Linked DNA regions of Homo sapiens: region 1 is linked to region 2. A link means that fine-mapping ties the variant in region 2 to the plasma level of a protein whose gene starts in the linked region. Region 2 holds a variant in brackets. A gene starts in the other region. All regions are shown on their forward strands.

Region 1 (15,955 bases), not on the chromosome of region 2:
CCCACATTGTGGTTTGTCTTTTAAGGTCTCGCCTCCCTGCTCCACCCATATTCCCTAAAGGGCCTGGGCTCTGGGGTCACACAGACCTTGGCACCAGTCCCGGCCCTTACTTTGGGGAAGTCACTTCACCTCTCTGAATCTCAGTTTCCTCATCTGTAAAATGGGACTAATAGTTAGACCGACTTCATAGGGGTGTTGGGAGGACACAATGTGCCCTATCACCAATTCCTAACACATCATGAGGTCTTTAAAAATCAAAATTCAGCTTTTTATGCTTTGCCAGGAGAGGTAAGTATTGAGCAGATGACAGGCCCATGTGGCTCATAACACTATTCAATGTACTGGTGTGTATTTTTGAAATTAGTAGGATAAAATGCTTTAAACTACTTCTCATATTTTGTGCTGCAACTGCTGCTATGCTCTATGCTCCTTCATGGAGGGGAATTCGAATATAGCAATAACAAGAGACCAAAACATTCCCCCAAAATTCCTCTTTTCCATCTGCCGAGTCTGTCCCCCCTGATACTCAGAGGGGCCCCAGAGAGACCCCGCCCCGCCGGGCCCATCCTGATACTGAGTTGGCACCAATGCCAACATCAGTCTCCAAAATCAGGTGTAAGAAGAAAACCTGGGAACTTCAGCTTTATTTATTTTCAGTCTGAAAAAGGTAAGAGGAATCATGCATTATAAATTCTTAAAACGTAAACTGAAACTGTGCACTCCAAGAATTAAAGTACTCAGGCTCACCTGTGACTCAGAAAAGAATATCTCTTCAGGCCTAAGATTCTGGGAAATGGCAAGCTGAAGGGAAACGGCCCTTGAATTAACCCTAGTCTCTTTTTGCTCCAGTGAAAAGAAACTGGTTTCCAAACTTGGTTAGCCAGCTGGAACATAGATACTGACTTGAATGTGCAGGTCCTTTGATGAACGTAAATACAAAAAGATGGAACAATGTAAAAGTGTAGACTGACAATGGTATACAGAAATTATTTGTAAGTTAAGTAAATATATTGGTTGTGAGTGCTCAAAAACTGTTTAACCAGTAGAACTGTATGATCAGAGAAGTCTGGAGCAACGAGTCTGTGCAGTGGCCCCTCTGGTGGCATCACAGCCTGATGCAGAGGGGGACCTGGATGTTTTGTCTGGGGTGCCCAAAAGAGCCATCTGCTCACACAGATAGGAGAGAAAGGTAGCAGAAGGCATAACTTCTATCAGGATTTCTGGGGCCAGGTGTGTATCTCATGCACTTAGGCAGTCCTGAATGATAGTCGCAGAGATGCTGGCTTTGAGAATGGGGAAGTGCTCTCCCACCAATCAGAGGTAGCCAATGCTCACTTCACTAAACTACACTTGCAGGATGGCCCCCTCCTCAGTGCTACCTAGAGGAGAAAAGGGAGAGCTGTTCTAAGAGAAAGTGGTCAGCAGGCCCTGAGGAGAGGAGACTGGAGGGGAGGGGAGTTGCTGGTCAAGACAGACAGGTCCCAATGGAGCATTTGGAGTTGGTGACGTAAGGCCCCAATGGGCCATCAGCACTGGCTAGGCTTTTCAGCCAAATTCCTCAGGAGTGGGAACCTCTGTCTGGGGTGCTCTCTGGGGGGGCTGCCTGGGCCAAAGAAGCTGGCTGTTCTCATCTGACCCTCTGGAGGATGCTGCCATGTCCTATATCAGAGGAAGGGGTGGGAAGTGTGCCCCACCTATGTGCTCTCCTCTCAAAGGCCTGAGAACCCTGGGAGTTGGACCTGCCCCTTCTGTGCAGGCAAACAGGGGCAAAATCTGTAGGTCTGAGTTCAAGTTGCAGCTCAGACTCTTATAAGCTTTGTGCACTTGGGCAAGTCATGGACCTCTCTAAGCCCCAATTTCTCTGCCTCCCAAATGGACAGAATAATATCTCTCCAACTTCTGGGATGATGCCAGTATGATAATCCCAAACCAAGAACGTAATTAGAAAAGGGACCCAAAAGCAATTAGGAAATTAAACTAATATGTTATGATTATAATTGATAGTAAGTCCCTACTCAACTGGAGACAAGGGTAAGTGTCTGGCGCAAAGGGTTTCTTGCATTCCACATGCACCCCAAGACTGATGGCACCATGACGGTGACAATGGTGGGAAGCCTGCCTCCCCACTCCACCCTGCCCCCTTCCAATAGAGTCCTCTGGACAGATGATGGTGTCATGGACCTCGGTGGGCCATGAGGGGCCTGCCTGGGACCTGGAAGGTGTGCATACGCAGAGAGATTGTTCCTGAGCTTGCTAGCTCCTGCCACGCCGTACCTCCCATCCGCCGCCTCATCAATCCATCATCCTCTTAGCAGCTGACACCTCTGGCAGCACCTCCGGCAGCCCGGGCATTAGAATTGCAAGAAGCCCCGGCTGCACCAGGGAATACAGATGGAGGAATCTCAGATTCAAATTTGTCTAAGTATTGTGAGCAGTCAGACCCAGGCAAGGCATCTCCACTGCCCTTCTGCCAAAGGGGAGTGACAGGGGTTTTGTTAGAAGTACAAATTGCTTCTTAATGCAGAGGATAAAGCTGGGTTCAGGCACCTCCTTAGAAATTCCTCCTGCTCCCAGGAAAGCCACCACTGCATGTCAATTTTAATTTTTGAAATTTAAACCAAGGGCTTTGTGTCTAAGCTCCATCTCATCGGAGGAAGGGGAGGAATAAGTCAAAAAGGATTAGGTGCCCGCTGGGGATTGCAGATCCATAGCAATTAGACTTCATTTGGGTCTCAGACATTTGGTTTTAATCACATTTCTGGATGACACAATCAACAAAGCATCAGAAATTGATACCTATGCAACTGTAGATGGGCCTGACTCTGCCCTTCCCAGTTCCTGGGCTCAGCTGGGTTAGGGATCCACAATCAGCAGGAGTGGGGTGGGGTGGGGAATTGGGGTTGGGATTACTAGGTCTGGAACTGGGGGAGGGGATGGCAGTATGTATATATGTGTTTCCTCCCATTCTCTTTGAGTACTTTATCCCTGGACTCAAAGCAGACATAATCATTGCTCATATTGAAAAGAATGACAATAAAACATTATTCAAACAAAATAAGAGCAAAAAGGAATAGCGACAGCAACAGGACTCAAGGCAGGGGGTATAGTTGTCTTTTAAATGGGAATCACAGCTTTCAGCATTCTCCAGGAACTAAAGTCGAGCACAAAGCAATTTGGGGCCAGAAATGCAGCATGAACATTGTCACACACCACACTGACATGGACTTATGAATATAAGTGTGTGTACATGTGTAATGTGGATTACGTGAGGACAATCACAACATCACATCCACATAGGAGATACACACACACACACACAATCTCCAGCTTTACACAGATACACACACCCTGGGGTTGCCTTTTTGTGTATACTCACACATTTCTTTTCACACAACCCGTAAAAGTGACCTCAGTAAGCACTAACAGGTTGCTGGGAGCTGACTGGTTATTTTGTACATAACTTTGTTGTAACTCAGTGATCTGACAACAAAAAAAAAGTAAAAAGAAAAAAATCAAAACCATGCGGGGTGTTTTCCTAACTTGTGTGTGTGTAGAATGCTGATGGGACACCAAACACACACACTCAGGTTCAGAGCAGGCACCCCAAATCGCATGCATAAGGGAAGGGAAGCCCGCAGGAAAGAGGCGTCCCTCCCCAAGGAATGGTGTCCACCTCAACACACAGCCCTGAGGAAGTTCAGCAAGCTGGATGATCCGCGGAATTGCCTCAGTTTACCAGCTCTCCGGAGAGCGGTGGCCCTGGCGGCTGTGAGTAAACAGGCCTGTGCTTAGTGAACCATCCGCTCGAGCGGGTGTGTGTCTGCTAGGGACTTCTGCACTTCCTTTTAGGAGCCAAACATCCTACAGATCCCTCCCCGGCAAGTGTCACTCACGCCTCCCATTTCCCATAGATGCCTTCTCTTCCCCTTCCTTCCCCAGAAGCCCCTCCCCTCTGACCTCCACCCACAACTCCGGGAGGACTAAGTTGCCCAAGTTGCCCAAGACTGGAGACCCAATCATTCCTCTCCTGCTTTCCTCTAACTCTCCCTGATGCCTTTCCCCGCCTCCTCCCCTCCTCCCAACCCCACCTCCGGCCTCTCCAGCTCAGGGCTGCAGCCTGGGGAGAGCTTCTGGGAAGGGTGGGATGCAGCTCCCATTTACCCCATGTCTTTTCGGCAACTTCTGGTGGCAGGGACATAGCAGCGGCTGGGGAGCAGGTCATAGATGGGCCTATCCTGGGCCCAGGTAAGGTCTTTATGCCAAGGCGGACATCTGGAGCCCTGGTCCAGGATGTGTCGACATACAGACAACAGAACGCATAGTCTAAAAACATAATTTAATGCATCGCGGTGAGTCTGAGTCAGGAGGGAATGCGGTGTGGAGAGGTGAATTTTCTGTTTGCTGGAATTCTGCTGTGGGTGGGGTTTTGGCTGATGGACAGGGAAATCTGCACAAGTATTTCGGGTCACAAAGAAGGACGCCCCAGGAAGCCCGCGCTCCCTCTGGCCTACCTCCCTGGCCAGGGCCCGGAGCCCTCCGCTTCTAGGCACTGGGAGGAGGCTGTCTGAGGAGGGCAGGCTCCCGGCCCTGCCTGTCCAGTCTAATCAGGTTTGCAAAGTCTGTGCCGCCGCCTCAAGGGCTCGGGCGTCCCTTCCTCCCTTGCCGGGATGGGGATGGAGACCAGGAGCACAGCCCTGAGCGTGGTGGGTCGCAGACGCACTGAGGCCAGGAGCGGGGCAGGGAGGACGCAGGGATTTGTCTTTTCCAAAGGAGATGTCAGGAAGTGTTATGAATCGAGAGTGGCCTTTGCCAAGGAGCCGCGCCCGGGCGGAGACCGGGCGGCCTGCAGCCACCCCGCCTCGCACCCCCCGCGCCCCTAATCCGGGTACAGAAGAAAGCCCGAGAACGTGCTGTACTTGTTATTATTGCCTCCGTGAGCCTTCCCGCCATCCAGCTTCACATACACTTCGTCCCCTGAATCCAAGTGCAGCACCACGCTGTTACTGGCGTAGTCGTAGTTCTGGTCGGCGTCCTGTGCAATGGCGCTGGCCCGGACCTGGGGACAAGCGGTGGGAGCAGGTGAGCCGGGGCACCTCTTCCCGCGCCTTTGCTCAGCCCACACCAGGCGCGCCACTCACGGGCCTCCCGCCTGCTGCTTCAGGGTCCACACTCCCACCCCAGCTCCATGTTCTCTCTCCAACTTAGTCAACTCCTTCCAGGTCCCCCCTCCTCCTCGCGCCGACGAGTCTGGGAAATAGGGAGAGGGGAAGCTTCATGAACACTGACCCAGAGTGGAAGGGTGGGAGCCAGGGGCCAGGGCCAAGAGGAAAGGAGGCTGCAGGGCAAGGGGGCGACCTGGAGAGAACTAAAGAACTGAGGTTTCCGAGAAGCCCACGGAGAGGCAGGCAGGGACGCAAGTGGCCAAGGAGTGTAGTTTAGGTATGGGGGTCTCTGGGCTCTCAAGGCCCAACATTTGGCTCTACGTCCCGGTGAGCGCGGCCTCGGCGCATCGGGAAGCGGAGATACTGTGGCACCGAGGCGCGTTCATTCCCGGGGCTCGCAGGGTAGCCCGCGGGTGGAGAGAAAGGAGGCTGGTTCCCTGGGAGGTTCAGGGCGCGGGCGAGGGTTTACGGGGGCCGGTGAGTGTAGGGGTCACTGACCTGCCCGTTCTTGCAGAGGTCCGCCCACATGCTGGTGCCGTCGCCGCCGCGCATGAGGATGTGGTAGGTGAAGAAGTAGATGCCGCGTACCTGGCAGCTGAACTTGCCCGTGGTGGGGTCATAGTGATTGCCGAGGTTGGTGACCACGTCATCGAACTTCAGCACCTCATAGCCTTCGTGGGGGCTCTTGAGACCCACATAGAAGGCGATCTTGGGGCCGCTGAAGGTGGCGCTCAGCGCACTGGTCACTTCACCCTCGGAATCGCCACCTACCCCGGCCCCGCCGCCCACCACCCCGACGCCGCTGGCCGTGCCCGCCGTCAGTTGCAGCCCTGGCAGCCCGGGCCGCCCCGAGTCGCCCTTCTCTCCCGGAGGGCCCCTGGGTCCAGGCGGGCCCGGCTCTCCAGGGGGCCCCCGCGGCCCTGGCTTGCCCGGTCGCCCCGGGTCGCCCTTGGGTCCCTGGATGAAAGGAGGAGGAGGGTTGGCGCTGAGGTCCTGCATGACTTCCAGGGCGGCGGTGCTGGGTCCGGGTGGCTGCGCCTTTGCACCCGGGGGCTCCCCGCCGGGCGCGGCAGTGTAAGGGTCGCAGATCATGCGGCAGGTGCCCATCATCTCATAGTGCGCGGCGCCTCGGGGCGCCGCCTGCAGCAGCAGCGGCACGGCGATGAGCAGCCCGAGCGCCATGGCCAAGAGTACGCCGACGGCCGCCAGGCAGGCACGCCGCCGCCGCTGCCACAGCCGGGAGGCGACCGCCACCAGCTCCTCCTTGCCGCCCGGGGAGGTAATGGTGGGGCGGCGCGGGCGGCCCCGCTCCCCGCGCTCGGGGACCGGCTCCGCGGGTCCTGGCCGCGCCCCCGACGTGGCGACCCCCAGCCCCGGCTACCCAACTACTTCAGCGAGAGGCGCCGGGACCTCTGAGCCTGGGCCCACCGCGCTGGGGCTGGTCGGGAGAGCCGCGGACGCCCGCGCGCATGACGTGGGGCACACAAGACGAATCCGGCGCCCCGAGGGTCCGGCGCCGGCCAGGGAGTGCTTGCGCTGGCCGGGGAGTCTGCTTGCGGCGTCCGGCGCTGGCTCCGCGGCGCTGCCTCCCGCCAGGCTCCGCTCCGCTGGGTTTAGTGGGGCTCCTAGCGCAGTGAGGGCGCCCCGGCTCCGCGGCGCGCTCTGCTGTGCTCTCTCGCTGTTCGCTGGCTCCCGCGCGGAGGGGGGACCCCGCTACCCTGACGTAAGGAGTCCGGGGCTGAGCGGCGGAGGCGGCGAAGCAGCGCGCGCTGCCATCACTCGGGAGACGGAGCCCTCATGTCATCAGCCTCCTATCTGGCGGCGTCCTCGGCAGAGGCGGTGAAGGCGCGGTTCCCCCTGGCGGCTCCCAGGAGCCACAAGTGGGCGCAGCGGGCGCGGTCCCAAGCCGGGGCACATCGGACACACCCACCCGCGGCCACACTCACGCGCCCCCCACCGATAACACACACAGACACCCACGCACGCAGTGGCGGGGCACGCACAGCCACCCCCACATGGCCACGAAAGCAGCTGGAATCCAGGTGTCAGCAGGGCTCCTCTGGGGTCACCTAATCCATCCCCTGGCCTGCAAAGAGGATCAAACCTCAACCCACCGAGTCCAGGAGAGTCCCGTGAGGTCCAGCGGGAAGGAGTTTCTGAAAGACCTCCTGAGTTATTTCTTCAGAATTGAATAGATCTCGCTTCTGGAAGATCTTTCGCAAACCTAGACTAAGGACTCCAGACTCTTAAACAGGCTCCCGTAGAGCACCCCACTAACCTCTGAGGTGACTCTAAAAAGCCCAAGGCTCCCAATACAAGAATATTTGCGGCCGGGCGCAGTGGCTCACGCCTGTGATCCCAACACTTTGGGAGGCCGAAGCGGGCAGATCACCTGAGGTTGGGAGTTTGAGACCAGCCTGACCAACATGATGAAACCCCGTCTGTACTAAAAACACAAAATTAACTGGGCATGGTGGTGCATGCCCGTAATCCCAGCTACGCGGAAGGCTGAGGCAGGAGAGTCGCTTGAACCAGAGAGGCAGAGGTTGCGGTGAGGCGGGATCGTGCCATTGCACTCCAGCCTGGGCAACAAAAGCAAAAGTCCATCTCAAAAAAAAAAAAAAAAAAAAGGAATATTCGCCTCAGACCTTTTCTTCCACCAGAAAATGGCTGGCCCTTGTCCTCTGCGTGAAGCTGGTGTAGAAACCAAATGCTTGATGCCGGCACTTGGCAGTGATCATGGTGCACTCAGCTTCTACTCCAAGCCCGGCCACTGCCAGGCAGATGCATGGGCACATTCCCTTGGACATCCCCAGCTTCCTCCTCCTGAGATGGGTTTAGTTATTTTAGAAAATAGTCCAAATAGTCCAAAGCCATTCTGAGCCAGTCTTGAATAAACCATGGCCTCAGATGAGAGCAGAATAGTCTATCTCCAATGTAGCATGTGAGGCTAAGGAAGGATGAGAGGCCCGCCGGTGTGGGAGAGACTTCCAGCGGAGAAATCAAAGCCCCAGCTTCTGCTCTTGCCCTGAGTAGCTGTGTGATTTTGCCAGGTGGTTCCTGTCCCTGAGACTCAGTTTCCTTAAAAGGCCGCCTCCTGCCCTAGCACCCCCAACATGGGAATCACACCAGGCCTGTCCTGGGGGGAGAATCTAAGGGCTGGTGTCAGTGTTTGGTGTAGCATCAGCATCTCTGGAACAACAGTGCACCCACCTAAGGCTATTGCTTTGAAGCTAACTCTCATTTGTCCTGCACTAGGTTCTTACGGGTTAATTAAAATCTATTTTTGTCCTCTGATCACCCTGGGTCATTTCCCCACTCCCAACCTCGTTGCTCTAGCCTGTTCTCTCCACATATATTTGTGGAAAGGATGACTGAGCCTAGCCGGAAGCCAACTTTACCAAGGAGAGAAGGAGCACATTTATTGGCACCTACTACGTATGCATCAGGCACTTTGCACGTGCTCCTTCATTCATTCCTCATGTTACTGTGGATTAGTGATCATTTTCCCACCGCACCAATGAGGAAAAAAAAAAGGTTTTGCAAGTGTAGGGTGTTTGCCAAGTGCATTTTACCCACATGACAGAGCCAGGATCCTCCCGGCACCCAGATCAGGGGCTATCTGAACCTGTCAGTGAACACAGCTTCAACAGCTACTTCTTGGCCACAGTCTTCACTGGTTTCCTCAGACTTGGGAGTCTTTCTCCACTCTCTGCCTCAGAGTCATCCCAAGAGCACGTGATTTCAGGAGCCACATGGCCTACTTCCAATCCTGGGTCTGAGACTTCCTGTCTGTGTGACCTTGAGCAAGTTGCTTCATCTCTCTGAGCTCGGATCTCCATGTGTAGAATGGGAATGGAAAAAGAACCTACCTCTAAGTTATTGAGAAGACTGAACGAGCCAATTAATGTAAAGGCTTTAGAACAATAGCTAGCTCAGTAGAAGCTTAGCTATTTTTATTAGCTATTGATGCTTTCAACCTCCCCTGCCATGGTTATGACCACTAGGATGCGACATGAAGGCAATATGCAGGGTGGCATGGGGAGGGTTAGGGTTTTAAAAAAAGAGAAGCTCAAAGATAATTCACATCCTTTGTCCTTCTCCAGAGCGCAGAAGGGGGATGTCCCATGCCTCCCACATTCCCCAAGCCTGCCCTGCTCTGTCTTTTTGTCTTTCAAAACTACCCAGAGTGTTTGTTCCCAGTCACCAGTTCCACCTGGACAAACATTTTCCAGGCAGACACTCACTCCGTTTGAATTCCCCAGCCTTTCAGACTGCTGGAGACTGCCAAGTCCCAGTGATTTTGTCCTTGCAGTATCTGGGCAAAGATGAAGCAAGGAGGGTCAGATGTTTGAGACCCAGGCTTTCACCTTGGCAGACCACAAGCAAAGCTACCTTCCCTGGGGATCAGCATTCCTGGGAGCGCCTCTCAAGACCAGCCCTCCACCAGGAGGCAGGGGCAGCAGGCTCCAGGGCAGGCAGAGCCCAGGCAGCCTCCACATAGCAGCCAAATAAGTCAAGAGGTGTCTTTCCCCTTGCTTCTCCTTCCTCCCACCCATCATGGCAGGGCCAGAAGGCATGGCCTGCTGGAGTGTTGAACATACCTATTTTTTTTTCTTTTTTTTTTTTTTTTTTTTGAGACAGAGTCTCACTCTGTCGCCCAGGCTGCAGTGCAATGGTACAATCTTGGGTTACTGCAACCTCTCCCTCCCAGGTTCAAGCAATTCTCCTGCCTCAGCTTCCTAAGTAGCTGGGATTACAGGTGCCCGCCACCATGCCCGGTTAATTTTTGTATTTTTAGTAGAGGTGGGGTTTTGGCATGTTGGCCAGGCTGGTCTCGAACTCCTGGCCTCAAGCAATCCACCTGCCTCAGCCTCCCAAATTGCTGAGATTACAGGCGTGAGCTACTGCACCCAGCTGACATACCTGTTTATCCACCTGGCTTCTGCTCCTCCTGAGCGATCCATATCATTGGTGACTATCTTCTCTTCAATACTAATTATGACCTATATTAACATATTGCCTTCCATTTAGACTGTGGTTTTTACATTTCGAGACCCACTCAAATCTGTTCTAAATTGCCTTTAGTAATCCAGCAGGCATTCCTTCTGCCAACATACACTGACAACCTACTATGTGCCAACCAGTGCTCTCTATCTTATCCTTTCATAGAGCCCTGTGCTCTGTGACACATAGTTTGATGCTTGGTTCCACACTGTCATGTCCGGTTCTTTAGTGGCCTCCACCAGCAGTGGGCCCCATGCTTCATCTACCTGCACCATGGCCTGTCTCCTGCATCTCATCTGGACTCCTCTCTAATTATCCTTTCAGTCTCAGCTAAGTGTCACTTCCTTGTCTGAAGTCTTCCGTGACCCTTCTCTAAGCTGAGTTGATAGTTCCTACCCATGTACGCTTTAGAGTACGTTGAATGTACCCTGCCATCCTATGTCTTACCATCATGCATTTCTTTATTAGTTAGCCTCCCCCACCTGGCTATGGGCTCCAGTAGGGCAGGAATCGTATCATTCATTCATCTTCATCTTTTGTGTATGTCATTCATTTGCTCAATATGTGTTTATTGACCCCTGTCATATGCCAGCCATCATGCCACGTGCTGAGTACACAGTGGTACACAACAGTCTTGGTTCCTTCTACTCTAGCTGTTCTACAAGACACCCTCAGCTCCCCCATTTCTTTCTACCCGTAGCACATGAGTTTGTACCTGAACAGCTGCAGCATGGGTGTTTATTGACATGCTGTCTCTAAATCAGACCTGTGTCCCAATTAGAGTGTAAGCTCTTTAGAGACATCATGTGGAATACATTGGCCAATCTTCTGCCTGCATCCCCAAAGGGAAGGACAGCAGGAGATGTGTCAGGGAGATAGACAGGAGGGAGATCACCCAAGGCCTTGGAGCCCATGTTGAAAGAGGTGAATTGTCTCCTGTGTGTAATTGAGAACTGCTGAAGGAGTTTAAGCAGGGAAGTGATGTGATCCATCTATGTTTTGCAAAGACCACGCTGGCTGCTGTGTGGTGAATGGATGTGGTGGTGGAGTGGGGGTGGGTTTTGGAAATGAAACCAGTTTGAAGGCTATTGCATGATCTAAGCAAAAGATAACGATGGCTTGGTCTGAGATAGTAGAAGAGAAGTAGGTGAATTCCAGGTATATTTTGAACTTGGGGCCCATGGGTCTTGCTGATGGATTTGAGATAGAAGTTAAGGAAGGAGAAGGAAAAGAAAAAAAAAATCAAGATTAACTTCTAAGATTTGGGTCGAACAACTGGGTGAGTGAGCATGAGAAGGTGGGGATATTTGGGGAAGAGCAATATGTTGTCACTGCTGGGAGGTGGAAGGAATTATGAACTCAGTTTGGGAAATGTTCATTTTGAGTGAAATATATGAATGAAGACATCCTGTGGGCAATGAACATAAGTCTAGTACTCAGCAGTGAGGTTTAAAAATAGAGCTATTGGCCAGGCACGGTGGTTCATGCCTGTAATCCCAGCACTTTGGGAGGCCAAGGCGAGTGGATCGCTTGAACCCAAGAGTTTGAGACCAGCCTGGGCAACATGGTGAAACCCCATTTCTATTTAAAAAATTATTTTAAAAAATTGATAATGGAGCTATACACAAGCAAGTTTTCATGGAGATTGAAGTGTGAGAGAGAGAGAGAGCACAAGCTCATTATAACAATCCCCCCATGCTCACCCCAGCCATTTAAAAGATGGATAGAGGAGAAAAGAAACAGAAGCAGTCAAAGTAGGAAAGAAAGCCAGGAAAATGGCCTCACAGAGGGGAGCAGCTCAGAAGGGAGGATTGTGATCTGTAATTTGGAAAGTCCACAAGAGATAGAGTAAGATGAGGATAAAAAGGTATCCATTGCGTATGGCAAGATGGAAGTCATTGTGGATGATGGCAGAGAGAACACTGTGAGGTCACAAAATCATTTCCTTTTCTTCTTGGGCAGGGCCCAGCTATATTTTCCAGCCTCTCCTTCAGACTGGTGAGGACATGTGACAGAACAATGGCCAATAGAATGTGAGCTGAGTGATTGATGTAAGCCATTTCAGGCCTGTACCCTAAAAGCTCTGTTGCAATATTCCAAGCTCTTCCTTTATCTGCTGGCAATAGCAATAATAGGTAATATTTACTGAGCACTAACTGTATCCCTATGCCAAGCATTTTAGATATATTAATTATTTTAATGCTCACAGCACTATGAGATATGCATCCCTGTTTTACAGATGGGGAAACTAAGATAAAGCTATATATTTATAAATGTCACTGTCATATGTAATCACTCCAATAATTGCTCCAGATTATGCTGGGATCCTGGACATGTGTCCCCCCAGATCTGGAGCTCCCAGATGCCAGGTCAGTCTGGCTGAAGGCTTCTTGCATATATTGCTGATCTCTCCCAGCCAGACGGTAAGCCTCCAAAGGGCAGGAACTGTCATGAGGACATGGCAAGTGTCAAATAAATATTTTTAAATTATTGATTATTTTATAGTGCCTGAAAATTTTACATATATGATCTCATGTCATAGTTTGCTCAAAAAGTGAAAAAATTTAAAAGATACTCTTTATGCTGGAAAATTAGGAAAGGAGGGCAAAGAAGGAAATTGATTGGCCATGCAGGTTCCTGTTAGCCTTTGCAAAAAACAGAGAAGTCTTCCTTCTTTCCTTCCTTTCTTCCTTCTCTATTTTCTCCCTTCCTTCCTTCCCTCTTTTCTCCTTTCCTTCCCTCCTTCCTTTCTTCTTCCCTCCCTCCCTCTCTCATTCCCTCCCTCCTTCTCTCCCTCTTTTTCTTCTTCTCTGCTTTCTTTCCTTATTTATTCATTTATCTGCTCATTCATCCTCCATATAGCATGTGCACCTACCATATGCAGAATTCTGTGCTGGGGTGGGTAGGGTGGGAGGCATGAATATGATGTTCTTGCTAAAGAGCTTGCAGCTTGGATGGAGGAACAAGACTAACAAACAGAAAGCACCTAAGCAGCCATCTGTATTTAGGTGGTATAGACAAGGAGTACAGGCAGGAAGAGGTTGCCAAATGCAAGTCACTGTGGCCACACAAGGCACTTGAAGTCTATCCCAGGATGAAGAGACAGAGCAGGACCTTCAAGGACAAGTGAGACTTGAACCTGTGAGAGGTCTGGGTGGATAGTGCAGTGGAGCTGCCCAACTGGTGTCTGGGGCACAGCAAAGAGGCTGGTCTGTACAGAGCCAAGGGTTTGTGCAGGGCTGGTGTGGACAGTATGTTACATGTGCCACTTTTCCCATCAAGCATTCTCCCAGGACCCTGCTTCTGCAAGTATTGATTACTCTGTCTTCCAGCTCCATTTTGTTTATGCACTATCTTTGGCCTTTTTGGAGACACTGTAGTAAGCCTGGCCCTGTACCTCTCTTTGCATACCCCACCTCCAGCCCCTTAGTCTTCCTCATGTGTCTAGTGAGTGATTGCTCTGAAAGAAAGAGAAGGAAAATCATATTTTCTACCTCTGCTGGGCACTCAGCTAGAGCTAGTGGCGCATAGGAGCCATAGGCTCTTCCAGTCCTTTCAGGCAGGAACTAGTGCCCTACAGTGTAGGGCAGAACGGGGGCGAGGTGGAGTGCACAGGCTCCTGCTGTTCTGAGAGGTTGGGCCACAGTGACCCACAGGCCTGTTTCCATTTTCAGCCCTAGCTCCTGAGATGCTCACAGCTAAAGGGGGTGGAGAAAGAATGCTCCAGTCTTAGCCCCTGAAGACATCAGACAGCCCTGCTCAGTGACCAGTGAGAAAGCACCCACCAGGCCCATTAACCCAGAAGCAGCAGCAACACGTTTGAGTCAAGAGGGTCAGCCAGCCCCAGAAAGCCCTCACTTGGCCCTCTCAGAGACTGCTACTGGGGCCCTAATTATCTCACCTCTAAGGGGCTGGCCCTGGCTGGATCTTCATGGAGCTGTGAGCTTGTTGCAGTGTCTGGGCTTGCTTTCTCCAGAGCCCAAGTCCCCTGCAAAAAAAAAAAAGAGAGAGAGAGAGAGAGAGAGACAGCTCTCAGAAACCCAAAATGAGGATGATTTAAGCAGGTCCTCCTGCACTGAGCTCGGCTTATTCCCACACTAGGCCAGCCAAAGAACCAATCATTCAAGCCACCCTTCCCCTGCCAGCTTTTTTCTGTCCTGTATCTGGGTGGTGCAGTTTAATTATTCATCCATGCAGGAACTATTTATCCAGTGCCTACTATGTGCAAGATACGAGATCCAGCAGAAAGCAGAAACACTCTATCCCTCACTAGCTGAGAAGCCTGTGGGGGTTACTTTACCAACTTCCTTCTCTGCCTTCATGATAATATCTGCCAACATGGACCTTTCCTCCCCAAACCACCTATGTCCCAGAGCTGGGGTGACACACGTGACAAGTGGCAATCCTCAGATGGCCCTTGCCACATCCTATCTCCCCTGAGCGGCTTTTCTCTCTATGAATCTGCAGGTTCTTTAGGCAAAGATTCTGTCATTTGGTCTCCTCATCACTACAGGGCGGGTCTGAGATGGCACTCAACATGCATTTGTGGGATGGAATAGAATAAGACAGGAGAGCCCAGCATAGGCTGTTTTTCCCTGGGTGGCACAGCAAGCCACCAACAGCCCCAGGGGTCACTAGAGGGGTGTGGCTATTTGTTTCTTCTTGGCAGTCATGTTAATAAAGCTATGGATTGCTGGGGGAAGCAAGCTTGTGATTCAGAGAAGTTCATTGAGACCATATGGACTTCCCCTAGAGGAGACTCAGCCCTTAGTCCATGCAGATGTAGAACTTAGCCACGGAGTAGAGCTCACCTTCCCAATGCACCAACATTAACTGGGAAGTTGCCATGTGCTGGGCACTGAAGACACAGGTACGGCAGGGGATTCAAGCAGTCCAGTGCCACAGTGTTGCTGAGCCTCAATTGTCTCTTCTGCACACCCCTGGAGGGCATGGATATACCATTGTCCTCACCTTGTCACCACCCTCTGTGACCTTGTATTCATTAGGTGGGATACGGGAGAAGTAAAAGACAGTGAGTCCAGCTAAGCCCCAGTGCAGTGCAAAAATATCCCATTGATCTATCAAAACTCAGTCCCACCAATGCCTGCCTGCTCCTTGAGCAGCTGAAGTCCAGGCCTTTCCCGGGGCGCACCTGCAGGCCTGCCGCTGTCCGTGGTGCTAATGGCTGTGGCTGCCGGACTTCCCTTGGCAGGAAGGAATCAGGTTTCAGAAATCCAGGAATTAGCTTATGTTCCAGGCTTTGATGTGCGGCCATAGCTCTGTGTGGAGATCTCAGACACTCCATATATGCCCTCCCCTCCCTGCTCATGCCTACACAAGAGACTTCCTCCCTGCCTGGGCCGGAGGCTGGGTGGCTGAGAGGAACAGTTCTTGCCTTTCGGACTCCCTATTTCCTGCCTCTCAGCTACTTGCTCTATATACCCACTCTGACACACACACACACACACACACACACACACACACACACACACACACTTCCCATGAAACACAGCTGTAATGAGGCAACCACCAGCCCTCTCCAACAGGCAGAAGAGAGAGAATTCAAGCACGAGGCTAAAAATGCAGCTTTGACAACATCAAAAGGGCTTCCTCCCAACTGATTGTATCCTGCATGTTCATGTTTTGTAAAGTATTTGGAAGGAACACATGATCCTGTAAGATTCATTTAGGGAGGGCCTGCAACTCTGTAGAAGGCAGCCAGGCAGTGGGTGGAATTTTGGGGTCACTGGGAACCAGAAAAATCCTCCAGCCCCCACCACTCTACC
Region 2 (15,257 bases):
TTTGTATTGTAACTAGTTTATCTATCATCTATCTATCATCTATCTGTCTGTCTGTCTGTCTGTCTGTCTGTCTGTCTATCTATCTATATCTATCTATCTATCATCTATCTATCTATCATCTGTCTATCTATCTATCTATCTATCTATCTATCTATCATCTATCTACTATTGATTTCTGCATGTTAGTTTGATATCTCAGCCAACTTTCTAAATTTATTATGCATTAGTTCATTCTCATGCTGCTATGAAGAAATACCCAAGACTGGGTAATTTATAAAGAAAAGAGGTTTAATTTACTCACAGTTCCACATGGCTGGTAAGGCCTCAGGAAACTTACAATCATCGCAGAAGGCAAAGGGGAAGAAAGGCACCTTCTTCACATGGCGGCAGGGAGGAGAAGTGTTGAGTAAAGGGGGAAAAGCCCCTCATAAAACCAACAGACCTCATGAGAAACTCACTCACTATCACGAGAATAGCATTGGGGTAACTGCCCCCATGATTCAATTACTTCCCACTACATTCCTCCCATGACACATGGGGATTATAGGAACTACAATTCAATATGAGTTTTGGGTGGGGACACAGCCAAACCATGTCATATTATTTGTAAAAATTTAAAAAAATTCTTTCAGTTGAATTCTCTTAGGATTATCTGGTTTGTAATCACATCATTTCAATGATTCTTTTACCTCCTACTTCCCAATTTTTAGATTTCCATTTTCTTTTTCTTATCTACTTATGTTAATTATGTCAGTCAGGATTTACCTGGAGAAATAGAACCGCAGGATTTATTGTAGGGACCTGACTTGACATAGGTGTGGGAGATAGTTAAATGGTGTTTACAGGAGGCTGTTCCTTCAATGTCTGTTGCTGTGGCCTGAAGTAAGCAGGGCAGGGACTCAGGAAGGGAAGATAGACATGAACTGAGTGCTTCAAGGACAAACTGGAACCTGCAAAGATGAGCGAGTAAAGCCCACCATTGTAAACTGGAATTCATCTTGTTCTTTCACTGCCCCTTAGCCTTCAACTTCAAAAATGGGTATGTCCTGTAGAAGTTGTCCGTCACAGTGCTAATGTACTTGGATCAGAAGCCAGGGTACATGAAGGAGGAGATCCTGCAGGAGCTGGCTCTGCTGTGGCCTGGTTGAGCCCTCTACTAACAAAGTGATAGAACAGAGAAACAACAGTGCTTGTGAACTGCAGTCACATCCTGTGCTCTGCCCTGACCTTTCTAGCATATGGAGTATGGCTCTACTAATTCACATCTACCGTCTTTTATGGGCCATACTAACTTGGCATTATGTATGGAAGATAATTCTGGGAAACATAATTACAGCTTAGCTAAGTTGACACAACATAAATCTACCACAGCTCACTCCTTGTCAAATGTGATATTTGTATACACTAGTTTTAACCATACTTAGCTTAATTTCCAAATAAAGTCAATAGCAAAGTAATACTCACATTTTACATAATGCAACTATCCCTCATACACCCAAAAACATGGAAATTCTTTTCCTAAAAGAGAATTCCCTTTGAGCTGAGTCATATCTCCCCTTTGATATTCTATAACTTAAATATTGAGATGTAAGGTAAGCCACTACAAACACATCTTATACAGTAGGGGAAGGAAAGGGGTAAAAAGAAACACAATTAATGTAATGTCCATTTATATTAAAATAAGAAAGAAATATTCACAACTTTTATGGTCCTTGTTTATGCAACTGGTCATGTGGTTGTAGCAGATATTTATAACGATGTTTCTGTTACTTATTCCATATTCTCTTTGCCCTCAGCAAGCACTTCATCTGTCGTTGGTTCCTTGCCCAATGGGGTCACCTAAACTTTTATTCTTGAATGGTCTGGGCCATCAGCAGTCCTGCCTGATTTGGGTTATTATAGTTTTTTGTTGATTTTAATTATAGGGCATTGGAGTGTAAGGGGGTGCACCCAGTATGTCTGGGTGCCCTGCATTCCAGACATACTCATCTTTACCATCACTGTGCAGAAGCAATCTAATTTTTCCCTTCATTATCAGGATTAGTCACACCAACCATCAAAGTGGACTCCTTCTTTGCCTTACCTTCACTTGCATGAGGGTCCAGAGTTGACAGGTCTCAACCTCCAAGCTTAATTTAGGGTTTTCAGGTAAAATACAGGATGCCCAGTTAAATTTGATTTTCGGGTAAACAACAAATAATTTTAGTGTATGTTCCATGCAACATTTGGATCACACTTAAACTAAAAAAAGTGTTCATTGTTTACATGAAATTCACATTTAACTAGGCACCCTGTATTTGTATTTGCTAAATCCGGCAACTCTAATTTTTGGAACTCTTGCTGCGTCCCCCAGTAGAAGCATTCTTCCACTGAAGACTTCCAAACTGACTGGGCCAGGTGCAGTGGCTCACGCCTGTAATTCCAACACTTTGAGAGGTTGAGGTGGGAAGATCACCTGAGCCCAGGAGTTCAAGACCAGCCTGAGCAACATAGCGAAACCCATCTCTAAAGAATAAAAAAATTTAAAAAACAGAAAATAAAAGAAATAAAAAGACTTCTAGATTAACCAAGAATGTTACTTATTTTTATGTTTTAAAATTTACAGTTGTTTTATGGCGCATCATGATATACAATCAACTTTCATTAATATTTCAACAGGCACTGGAATGAAGGATTTTCTTTATTAGTAGTATATAGAGTTTGCTATATACACATCAGATTTACTTTCTTTTTTTGAGACAAGTTCTCCCTCTATCACACAGGCTGGAGTGCAGTGGTGCAGTCTTGGCTTACTGTAGCCTGGACTGCCCTGGCTCAAGCAATCCTCTTGCCTCAGCCTTCTGAGTAGCTAGGCCTACAGGCATGTGCCATGATGCCTGGCTAAAGTTCAAACTTTTGTAGAGATGAGGTCTTGTTATGTTGCTCATGCTTGTCTAGAACACCTGGGCTCAATGGATTCTCTTGCCCCGGTCTTCCAAACTGCTGAGATTACAGGCATGAGCCACTGTTCTCAGTCAGATCTACTTTCTTGATAAGTTGTTTTGAATATTTTATTATGCTTGTCTTTATATACCTTAAGCATGAAGATAGGAGTTAAAGTAAATTAATAATTTTATAATTATTTTAACCATTATAAAATAATTTAATGATAATTAGCATATTTTGATTATTTTTCTTGTCTCATATACTTCTGTTTTATTAAAATTGCTGCTACATACATATTTTGCTACATAAAGATTCATAGCTCTTCACTGAAAATCAAAATCTTTAACATATAAAGTACCCATTGTGTGTCATTTAATAATCTTGGTTCTGATGTCCAACTTATGGGATATTAAAATTATTATCTTTGGTTTTCTTTTGAATTTGCTTGGTATAATTTTATGCTGTCTTTTATTTTTAATCTGTCTGAAACACTTTTAGGTTTGTCTCCTGTATATAACAGAGCTGAATTTTCTCCAATTAAAAGCTGTTTTTCTTTCATTAGGAGTTTACATTTATTGATGTGAGTGATACTTATAGACTTGGTTTTATCATATTATTTCATATTTTGTTATATATGTATGTGTATATTTATTTTCTATTAAAAATATATGGTGGTATTTAGGAAGGTTCAAAATTTGTTTCTAGTGGTGACCTATATACATTTAAATTTATATAATATCATTATTCCTCTTTATCTTTAGACAGTTTAAATTGGTTCCTTGTTATAAACAACAATAAACTTATCTTGTATTCTTACCCCTCCTTCACCCCTTCTATCTTCCCTACCAGTAAATTTGTATCATTTGTATTATCTTAGTGTTTATTTTGTATTTAACATTAATGTGAAATATTCATATGTGTCTATGGTTGCTTTCATTCTCAACTTTGCAAATGATCAGGCAATAAGGGAATTTATTTTACCCTCTCTTCCCTGTCTCTATTTTTTCTTAGTTATACTATTTCAGTGCTGTCTGAGCATATAACATTTATATTTCCTTCAGTCACACTTAAAATCACATTTGTTTTTTCTTAGATCTGCATGTACAATGTTTGCTACCATTTTTGTTTATTTTGGCTAAAGTTGCCATTGTCATCTCTTGGTTGGCTGTAGTTTGTCCTATGGTGGTTTCCAAAAAAAAGTCCCAAGTGAAAATTATTCTTTGAGTTCTTGCAGGTTCAGATAATATATCTGAGGCATTGATACCTAGAAGATAATGGGGCTTGATATAGTCCTTGGCTCATCCTTTCTTTTCTTGGATGTCTTATAGGTACTGCTGCACTATCTTTTGCTAGTGAATACTACTGATCTGAAATTTCTTCTCATATGGCTTGATCTTTGTTTGACTATCTAAATTATTATTCTTTATCTTTGAAACCTAATACTTTTACTCTTAGTTGTTTTGGTAGAAATCACTTGGTTTAATTTTTTGCTACTATGTGATGTGCAATTTTAATATGTAGATTGACGTATTGTTTTATTTTAGTAACATTTACTTGAAATATATATATTTTTTGAGTCAAGGTCTCACTCCCTTTGCCCAGGCTGGAGTGCAGTGGCACGATCATAGCTCACTGCAGCCTCAACTTCCTGGGCTCAAGCAATCCTCCCACCTCAGCCTCTCAAGTAGCTGGGACTACAGGAGAGCAGCACCATGCCCAGCTGATTTTTGTATTTTTAATAGAGATGGGGTTTTGTCATATTGGCCAGGCTGGTCTTGAACTCCTGGTCTCAAAGAATTCACCTGCCTCAGCGTCCCAAAGTACTGGTATTACAGGAGTAAGCCACCACACCTGGCCTGAAACAAATTTTTAAAAAGCTATTTTGTTCTACTTGGATTCCTTCTTTAGGTTATCCAATTAAGCCTATGTTGATTCTCTTTTGCTTGTTACCTATATCTATTAGTTTTCTCTTATCTTTTCCGTTTGTTTCATTTTTGTTGATTTTCTCATTTTTATCCTCTGTTTTCCTTATTGTGTATGGCTTCCATAAGGGAAAGTGAAAAGAATCAGAACTAAGATGCTGTTGAAACACTAAGGTGTTCCCATTGAAACAACCAGAAACAATATTTTGCACTTAGTCTCTGGGCTAGGTTGGAAAAACTACATTTTAAAGAAATTTTAAAGTAAAGAAATACTTAATTGTAGTTGTAGTTGAGATATATTTTCTTGAAGTTATTATTCAATAAATTCCACAGGCTCTTAGATTGCTGAAGGTGACATTTGCTTTAGTGTTCTATCACATTGTAAGTTTATTCCTTGATGATGCTACAATTTGATATCATTGATGATTATCAATATCCTTGATGATGCTACAATTTGTAATCATTCATATCTTTTGTTTTTTTCTGTTAGCATAAGATAGAGGGCAGGAAGACGAACTGAGGAAAGAGTAGGACATATCAAGAGCCGTAAAAATGGAAGTGGTGAACTGAAAGCTAATGATGTATGGGAATAAGACACCCACCTGGAAGTCAGAGGAAGCTTCAAGCCAAAGATGGGGAGATTGTGGACTCAGTAATCTAGCTGGTACTCTCACCCAGAGACAACCACAGAACACGCTGAAGCCAGCCTTTTATTGTTGTGCTTGAGCTCTGGATGAACTGCATTCCTGATCCCTAGTAGATGCTCAGTAACAGATTAAGGAATGAGGGTCCAAAGGAAAAAACACACGCATCTCATTGCAGTAATGAAATTTTACTGAATGGAGTGCTTAATGGGAAATGATATCCAAGAACATATGATTTCCTTATTTTAATATTGAGTAACAATTCTATTTGCTCAGACCTCTTTAATTTAATTTAGGGTAGGAGGAATTCCATTAAAATCTTTGATCTATCTTATTCAGATTTTTCTTAATTGGCTCAACCACTAGTCGTTGTGAAGTCCAAGATAGAGGAGTTGGCTGGAGTCATCCTCTCCCACAATGTGAAAGTAAGTAAAGACTCTTCTGACTTGACTATCAATTTAAACTCTGTTAGGTAATAAAGTCCCTGTGCATCTTTACAGGTATGTGTACCTTCCATTAGAATTTGCATGAATTTTAGATTTATCATGATGCCTTCGCTGAGTATTTCTTTCTCTTCACTCACTTACCTCAGTTGTCAAGTGTAAGCCTCCTCCAGACATCAGGAATGGAAGGCACAGCGGTGAAGAAAATTTCTACGCATACGGCTTTTCTGTCACCTACAGCTGTGACCCCCGCTTCTCACTCTTGGGCCATGCCTCCATTTCTTGCACTGTGGAGAATGAAACAATAGGTGTTTGGAGACCAAGCCCTCCTACCTGTGAAAGTAAGTCATAATGATGAATTCTGCATCAAAATGTTTGCTCTCTTTTGTTTAAAAGAGAAAGAAAGGTAAATTTATTGGGGGGCAAATGGAAAATTCAAAGATAAACTAACTATCGCTCTGATGCAATCATTTATTTGGCCACCTGATACTTATTGCATGTTTGTTTAGAATATAAAAGCCATAAAAATGGGAGTGGTGAACTGGGAGCTAACAGTATATGGGAACAAACAGCAACAACATCTCACTGGTTTGGTGAAGTAAAAGTTTATTCTCATTTACACTGAGTTTGTTCCATGTCCAGGAGACTCTCCAGGGCAGCCGTAGTCTGTGTTAGCTTAGCAACTAGCTCAGCAAGCCAGGTTGCTTTGATCTTATGGCACCTCCATTTCAAAATGTGCCTTCACAGTCTCTTCAGTAGACGAAGAGAGAAAGGCCAATTGTGTCCTGGCTAAGAGCTTTGGCCTGGAAGCAACCACATATCACTTTCCATTACAGCCTTTTGTCTCAAACTAGAGAGTAGCCTCAGAGGACTGGGGAATGTAGCCTTGGTCTGTTCAAGAAGCGGAAATGAAAATATAATTTGCACCTATAAGATGAAACACATATGCCTGTAGGGCAAGCAAAACCTGAGTGCCAGAAGGGCAACAGGACAAAGCAAGTGATAATTGAGTCAAAAGATATGTTAGTTAGTGTGCTAGTCTAAGGAATCTTACTTTATATTACTAAGTTTACACAGTATTGCTTACTAACCCACCACAGGACACAATCAGACGAGGGGCACAAAAGAGCAGGATACTGCCAACAGTGCAAAATGCCTGGAGTTAGATCTGCAACAAGTGAAAGCGGCAATAGCTGAGGGCAGAAAAGTGGGCAGGGGCCAGGTTATGAAGGGCCTTGTGTTTCAGTCTCAGGCATTCAGAACAATCATGGAGGGGAGACTTTGAAAGGCTTTAACAAGGGGAATAAATGTGCTGCATTTTAGAAAGATAACTCTGGCTGTGGGACAACAACCTGAAGTGGGACAAAACTTAACTGACAGTCACCTGCTATGGCTTGAATGTGCATCTCCAAACTCATGATAAAACCTAAGACCCAATGTGATCGTTTTAACAGGTGGAACTTTTGGGGAAGTGATTAAGTCATGAGGGATCCACCCTCATGAATGGGATTAGTGCCCTTATAAAAGAGGTTGAAGGGAGAGCGCTAGTCTCTTTTGCCCTTCTGTCTTGTGAGGACAGAGCTTTCATCCCTTCCCCCATGTGAGGACGCAGCAAGAAGGCACCATCTTGAAAGGGGAGAGCAAGCAGACATTGAATCTGATGGTGGCTAGATCTTGAGCTTCCCAGCCTCCAGAACTGTGAGAAAGAAATTTCCATAATTTATAAACTAGTGAAAGTATTTTGTTATAGCAGCAGGAACAGACTAAGACAGCACCTGTGCAACCCTCCAGCCAAAAACTGAAGGTGGCTTCAGCGGTAGCATGGCAGTGGGGCTGGACAGAAGTTAAGGGATTGTAGAGGAATTAAAGTAGCAGAATTGCCAGGACTGGATGACTGCCAGGATGTGGGTGAGGGGTGTGAGATAGGGGGCGGCTTGTTTTCTGCTTGTCGGGGCATGGGTCTCTGATCCCCTGGGCTGCCTCTGCACTATGTAATTACCATGGGCCACGGACCCATAACCAAAATCATCTAGGAAATTAGGCCATTATACTGAAAGTTTTGGGGGCCTTGGAAATATGTTTCTGCTGGGTTATGTATGACTGATTTTTATTGGTAGGGAAGTTGGAGGAGCTATCCACAGTCATCTCGAAGAAGGACCAATGTAATGAAAACTCATTTTAAAAGCTGAAATTATATATTTTATATATATACACACACATACATATGTGTATATATAAATATATATTATATCAAATATAAAAATATATAATATATAATACTATTGGTATAGTGTTATATATTCTATAAGACTATATTATAGAATATATAAAATATATAATAAGTATCATTAACATAATATAAATAATTTCAGCTTTTAAAAGCCTCAGTAAAATGAGTTTCCATTACATTGGTCTTTCTATGAGGTAATTGTGGATAACTTCTTCAACTTCTCCACCAATAAAAACTAGTACTGAAAGGATTACATATATATATATATTATATATACAGATATATATGTATGCGTTTGTGTATGTGTATTCACTTTAAAATGTTTCCCTTGTATCTACTTGACATGCACATTCAACAGGCATTTGTGTTGCACTTGTAACTGGATTAGCAGTGGCAGTAATATCCTTATTACCATCTATCTTTTAAAATCCACTTGTCTTTTCTCATGATTCTTTAGAAATCACCTGTCGCAAGCCAGATGTTTCACATGGGGAAATGGTCTCTGGATTTGGACCCATCTATAATTACAAAGACACTATTGTGTTTAAGTGCCAAAAAGGTTTTGTTCTCAGAGGCAGCAGTGTAATTCATTGTGATGCTGATAGCAAATGGAATCCTTCTCCTCCTGCTTGTGAGCCCAGTAAGTATGGACTGTGACAGAATTTCAATGTTTGGCATCTAAAGGTACCCCGTACTGTTAATACGGGTATACTTGCATGCATAGGCCTACTATGAATTACAGTAAAAATTTACATCTAGATCAATAATTTCCTTTATTTTTTTCTTGTTGGAAAGAAGAATGATTTTAGTGCACTCTGCAAGGTCATATATTGTCACACAAAACTGCCACATACCACAAGACTGTGCACATTCCAACCTTAAAGGGAGGTGTTAACATTGTAGATACTATGGATTTGTATATTTATTTCAATAATTTTATGGAATTTGATAGAAAATTGTCTTATTCTAACAAAATCATTATATTATTATAATTACTTTGAAAGACAAATAATAAATTGTCCTGAGGAAAAATGCCTTTTATAACTTGTACAAAAGTATTGTGTGAACTGGTTATGATTCCAACACTCTGAAGTTATAAACTCGTGGATTATTAAAAATAATGACAATAGTAATAATGATAACTTGGCACTAGACTAGGTGCATAACAAGGATTAACTCAACAAATCCTCCCAACAATTGTGGGCACTATGATTATCCTTATGTTACAGATGAGAAACTGTTCACAGAGGTTAAAAGACTTGCTCAAGGTTATACAACTGGTAAGAGAAGGAAGCCACTGATGCCTTGTGCTCTAAGTTTTGCCCTCACGAAATGTCAAGAACTTCTGGGGATTTCTGGAGCAGTGGTGGAGGAGTTTGGGGAAACCTCTCTCCTGAAGAGGTATCCACCAAGCTGGTCAAAATTAGCAAAGAAAACCATTCAAAGTCTCTGGAGAGTGATCAAAGGGATTACAACAAACCGAGAAGCATTTATTCAGCAAAAATATGGAGACTTGATAGGAACAGTGGGAGGACATTGCATTAGAACTAGGGGCTGCAACAGCTCTACCTTGCGGGAGGATGTTTTCTGTGGGCTCATCCCACAAGTGGCAATTCCCATCTTCTCCAGCTCCCTGGGGTAAAAAAGTTATTTGGGGTGGATTTGGCAGCCAGTGAAAATTACATGACAGTATTTTTCAAAGATCCATGCTGTGGAAGTCGAATATTGAATCGGTGCCAGCAAACATGCATCAGTGTCTGTTCCTTCACCCCCAACTCCGATTATATGGGGAGGATCTAAGTGGGGCAGCTGGTAAGAAGTCAGTCCCCCCTTTTTCATGGCTCTATGTTGCACGAGAACTATTCCAGTTGGCTCAGCAGCCAAGTGGCATCTCCCATCTTCCCCAGCTTCCTAGAATGGAAGAACTATTATGGGTAGGTTGACAGCTATGAATATTGGCAGTTATTATTCTCCCCAGCTCTGCGCTGTGGAATATGTGTACTTGGTGGTGGGCGCAGCTGGGTGGCAGTGCCAGTTCCTACTTCCCCCTTTTCTCTTCTCACAGCTCCTACACCATAAGAAGAACTCTAGTGCAGTGCCTGGGAAAGAATGAGTTTTCTAATTTCCCCCAGCTCCTGATCTATAGGACAGACATTCTTCCAGGGCAGATTTGGAGCAAGCTTCAAAGACTGTAAACACTCTGCCCCTTTCAAGGAACTTTAATTGGATTAGACTGTGAAGCATATTATGCCCCAGGGAGTTGCTGAAAAAAGTAGAACAATCAGATAAAGATTGCTGGAGGCCAATGGTTGTATGTAATACCAACAGAGGTAGACCACCCAAAGTCTCAATGAGAAAGAGACAGTCAAAGAGAAAACCACAGTTATCTCTGGCAGTTAAAAAGACTGTGTACATGCCCAAGTCTGTGCTGTCTGAGGCATGCTGTTAGATGTTGCACACTTTGAAGGAAACAGACTTAACTGAACTAGTCCAATTATGTCACTAAACAAACAAGAAAATGAGGAAACAACAACAGATCCCAAAGGTGGTAAGGGAGAATCAATATCCAAAGTTGCTGCAATGTATTATCTAACATGTTCTGTTTTCAAAAAAAAAATTGTCAGATGTGCAAAGAAACAGGAAAGAGTGACCCATGTAAAGGGAAAAAGCCAACAATAGAAACTGTTTTTGAGGGAGCCCAGAGAATGGACTTAGCAGGAAAGTTCAAAGAATCACAAAGCAGCTATTATAAATATGTCCCAAGAACTAAAGGAAACAATATTTAAAGAATTAAGTAAATGTATTATGACAGTTTTATCAAATAGAAAATATTGATAAAGATAGAAATTATTTTAAAAAGAAATGGAAATTCTAGAGTTGAAAAACACAGTAAGTAAAATGAAAAATTCAAAAGAGGAACTCAACAGTAGATTTGAGTTGGAAAAAGAATCAGTGAATTTGAAGATAAATTGAGATTATGCAATTTGAAGCACAGAGATGAAAAGAATGAGGAAAAATAAATGGCATCAGAGAAATGTGGGACACCATTAAGTGTACCAACATATGTATAATGAGAGTCCCAGAAAGATGAGAGAAAGAGAAAGGAGATAAAAACCTATACAAAGGAAAAATGGCTGAAAATATCACAAATTTGACCAAAAAAAAAAAAAACCCAAACAAAAGAACAAAACAACACATTAATCTACATATCCAAGAAGCTTGTTGAACTCAAGTAGGATATTGCAAAAAGGTCTAGACCTTGAGACATTATAATCAAAATGTTGAAAACCAAGAATGAAGAGAAAATCTTGAAAGCAGCAAGAGAAGAGCAACGCATCATGTACAATGTAACCCCAGTAAGATTAACATCTGATTCCTTATCAGAAAGAATGGAGGCTAGAAAGCAGCTAGATGACACATTCAAAGTGCAGAAAGATAAAAACCTCAACCAAGAATCCAACAACATATTTTGCACTTACATATATTACAAACTGCACAATAAATTTTTATAATTATTGTTTTATATAATTTCATGTTTCATGTCTTTTATAGTAGCTGAGAGAAGAAAGGAGGGCAAGTATATATTTAGAGAGTTTATTATGTTAATCTTCTTATTCTTCATTTCTGGCGCTCTTTATTTCTTCCTGTAGATTCAAGTTACCATCTGGTGTCATTTCTGTACTATAATACAGCTTTGTTCCCTCCTACCTTTCTTGTGATGTTATTGTCAAATATATTGCATTTCTGTATGTTATAGGCTTAATAATGCAATTATATACATATTGTTTTATGCAATTGCTGTTTAAATCAGCTAAGAGAAGGAAGGAGTAGTAATATATATTATACTGTGGTTCAAATTACTGACATAATGACCTCTGCTGATGCTCATTGTTTTACTGTGTGGATTCAAATTACCGTCTGGTGTCAATTGCTTTCAGTCTGAACAATTTCCTTTAGCATTTCTTGTAAGGATAGCCTTCTAGTAACAATCAGATACCACTTCACATCCAGCAGAATGGCTGTAATAAAAAAGATAGACAATAACAAATGTTGGTGAGGATGTGGAAAAATTAGAACTCTCATACACTGCTAATAGGAATGTAAATTGGTGCAACCATTTTGGAAAAGAGTTTTTGCAGTCCTGCTGAAGTTTAACCATGGAGTTACCATATGACTCTAATTACCCTCCTGGGTATCTACCCAAGATAAATGAAAACATATGTCCACACACAAAAATTTTACATGAAGATTCATAGCAGCATTATTCATAATAGCCAAACAACCCAAATGCCCATCAAATGAATAATGAATAAACAAAAAGTGGTTTATCCATAAAATAGATTATATCATTTGGCAATAAAAATGAAAAATAAAAAGTACTAATGTATGCTACAACATGGATGAACCTTGAAAATATTATGCTAACTGAAATAAGCCAGTCACAAAAAGTACATGTATTGTGTGATTCCATTTATTTAAAATGCTCAGATTAGGCAAATCCATAAAGAAAAAAATAGATTAGTGGTTGTCAGGACCTAGGGGGAGGTGGAAATAGGGAGTGACTGATAATGAATATGAGGTTTCTTCTTGGGTTGATAAAAATATTCTGAAATTAGTTAATGGTGATGGTTGCACAACTCTGTATATACTAAAAACCATTGAATTGCACATTCTAAATGGGTGAATTTATTTGTTGTGACTTTAATCTGAATAATGCTGTTAAAAAAGAACTTTTATATTCCATTTCAATAATCATCCAACGTGGTAGATGTTTGCATTATATTTTCATATCATATGAATCAGTAGCATTGGGAAAGAGAGAAGAGGACAAGATCCAAGGCCCAGGCTCAAAAAATGTTTGGAGCTTGGTTTTTTTCTTGCCAAGTCATTCCTGGTATCATCTGGATGAGGGGAACGGCTCCTGTTTATTTTCCCCAATCAATCAGTAAACATAGTTAGATTTGTTTGTGACAGTTTTCCTGCCATGCTTCAGTTCAGAAACTAAAATCTCTGAAATGTAAAGAAGAGGAATGAGAATTAAAATTATTATACTTGGCACAGCACATGGAAACCACTTGGGAGTGCCCTTAGTGAAGAGCCTCTCTGGAGGTGTGCACATTTGAGCGAATGTCCATGTGTGTTTTCTGGTGTGGTTGATACATCAGGCCTTGCAGGCTGGTTCCAGGCTGAATGAACGTATGACCCCCTTTGATAGGACAGGCTTATTGACTGCTGTGGCAGCCCTAGTAATAGCGTCCTTTTGTTCTTCTTCTTCTTCTTTCATGAGTAGATAGTTGTA[T/C]TAATTTACCAGACATTCCACATGCTTCCTGGGAAACATATCCTAGGCCGACAAAAGAGGATGTGTATGTTGTTGGGACTGTGTTAAGGTACCGCTGTCATCCTGGCTACAAACCCACTACAGATGAGCCTACGACTGTGATTTGTCAGAAAAATTTGAGATGGACCCCATACCAAGGATGTGAGGGTGAGTTTTTGTTTTTTAATATTTTTGTATATTAAATGTCCAGTATGTGCTAGGATTCTCTACCTTAAATGAATATAATTTTATCCCTCACAACAAGTTTAGAATTAAGTTAATTCAACAGATTAGTAAACTGTTAGTGCCAGAAGGGGACCATAAACATGTTACAGTTTGAGGCACTGAGAAATTGTAACCTTTCCTTATCCCAGTTCAGAATCAAATGAGAAGTAGACACAGAAGTCAAACATTATGCAGATTATGTATTAGTTTTCTTACTGGTAAAACTAGAATGGAGAATACAGCTCAACTATTGTCAGAGTCAGGCTTCCTTCATAGCCCTTACCTCCCCAGTATGGGCTTTGGGGTGTTTGGCAGAAGACAAGTTTGTGAAACAGTCATGAGCGTAACCAGCTGCAGGGTGACTTGTGTCTCATGTCTCTTGAACCATGAGATGGCAGGGCTTCCTGATCTGCCTCTAGAAGACAAATCCTGACTCGTGACTGAGCATTCTCACTTCGTAAGGATAGAAAGGAGACTTCCTCCAGTTTCTCTGGTAGGAGACGCACCTCTTTTATTTGTGGAAATGAGTGAGGGACTGAACGACAAGTGGATACTATATTATGAGCCTCAGTGGAACAGACAAGAGAGGAAGAAAATGCTTTCTTCTATCCATCTATCAGAACCTTGCCACTTTAGAGGTGAAGACACTGAGGCCAAGAATACAGGGAATTTTATGCTGCATATCAGAATTTCAACAATCTGTGAAATGCATAAATAATGAAAAGTGGTAGTTTAGATCAACCTGTCAGAAGATTACTTATTTCATATTAAGACTTAACAAAGTTTAATTGCAGTTATTCAGACTCATTTTGGGGAAATAGAATAAAAGATTTTAATAAAAGGACTGAATTAAAAATATACTTAATAAAACTTACCGCCATTACTTAAATAACAAAAAGTATTGCTTATAAATGTTTAAAAACCTCCTTTATAGTTGTATTTAGGCTAGGTGCGGTGGCTCCTACCTATAATCCCAGTACTTTGGGAGGCTGAGGCGGGAGGATTGCTTGAGCCCACGAGTTTGAGACCAGCCTGGGCAATAGAGTGAGACCCTTGTCTCTACAAATAATTTAAAAAATTAGCGGGATGTGGTGGCACACGTCTGTAATCCCAGCTACTCAGGACGCTGAGGTAGGAGGATAACTTGAGGCTAAGAGGCCAAAGCTGCAGTGAGCCGAGATCATGCCACTGCATTCCAGCCTGGATGACAGAGCAGGACCCAGTTGTTTACATTTATTTGATCCCCTATGATCTTATTGATTTAATTATTTAATAAAGAATATTTTTAACCATTTTAAAAGCAGAAGTGAAGTAGTATTTATCCAAGTTATGAAACCTGATCAAATGTGAATTTAGACTCATGACTTACATATTTAAAAGTATTTTCTGCACTGCAAAGCATTTCATAAATATTATTGTTGTTTTAATATCCAAACCATATGATTGCTGAATATTTTTATTATAATTCCTAAACAAATGAGCACTGGAAGTGTTTGAGTATGTCCAAAAGACCCCATTTTAATACTGGTCGAGTTACTGACATGGAGAATG

Alleles and levels. Positions count from the first base shown, and alleles are read on the strand shown. Strength reflects both the effect of a copy and how common the allele is.
As copies of T replace C in region 2, the plasma level of the protein whose gene starts at base 6,826 in region 1 goes up (strong association).

What was found. PIP is the chance, under the fine-mapping model, that this variant and not a neighbour inherited with it causes the effect. The UK Biobank Pharma Proteomics Project read protein levels with antibody pairs (Olink). The fine-mapping took linkage between variants from a reference panel, not from the people measured, so its PIPs are less certain.
Region 1: it holds the start of C1QL2, and the variant in region 2 is fine-mapped to the plasma level of the C1QL2 protein (UK Biobank, PIP 0.92).

Annotation. Positions count from the first base shown.
Region 1 is chr2:119,151,926-119,167,880 of GRCh38, forward strand. C1QL2 (complement C1q like 2) reads right to left here and starts at 6,826. Exons shown (of 2, transcript NM_182528.4): 1 at 5,661-6,826; 2 at 4,318-5,056. The coding sequence starts at 6,344. The coding sequence ends at 4,877. RefSeq lists an enhancer at 5,194-6,004.
Region 2 is chr1:207,118,092-207,133,348 of GRCh38, forward strand. C4BPA (complement component 4 binding protein alpha) reads left to right here. Exons shown (of 12, transcript NM_000715.4): 5 at 5,831-5,916; 6 at 6,084-6,275; 7 at 8,622-8,804; 8 at 13,455-13,649. It overlaps LOC107985251 (a long non-coding RNA gene), which reads right to left. Exons shown (of 3, transcript XR_007066838.1): 3 at 8,919-12,183. Among named protein-coding and RNA genes, the nearest start is that of C4BPA, 21 kb to the left of the region's middle. The variant T/C (reference allele first, on the strand shown) is at 13,464.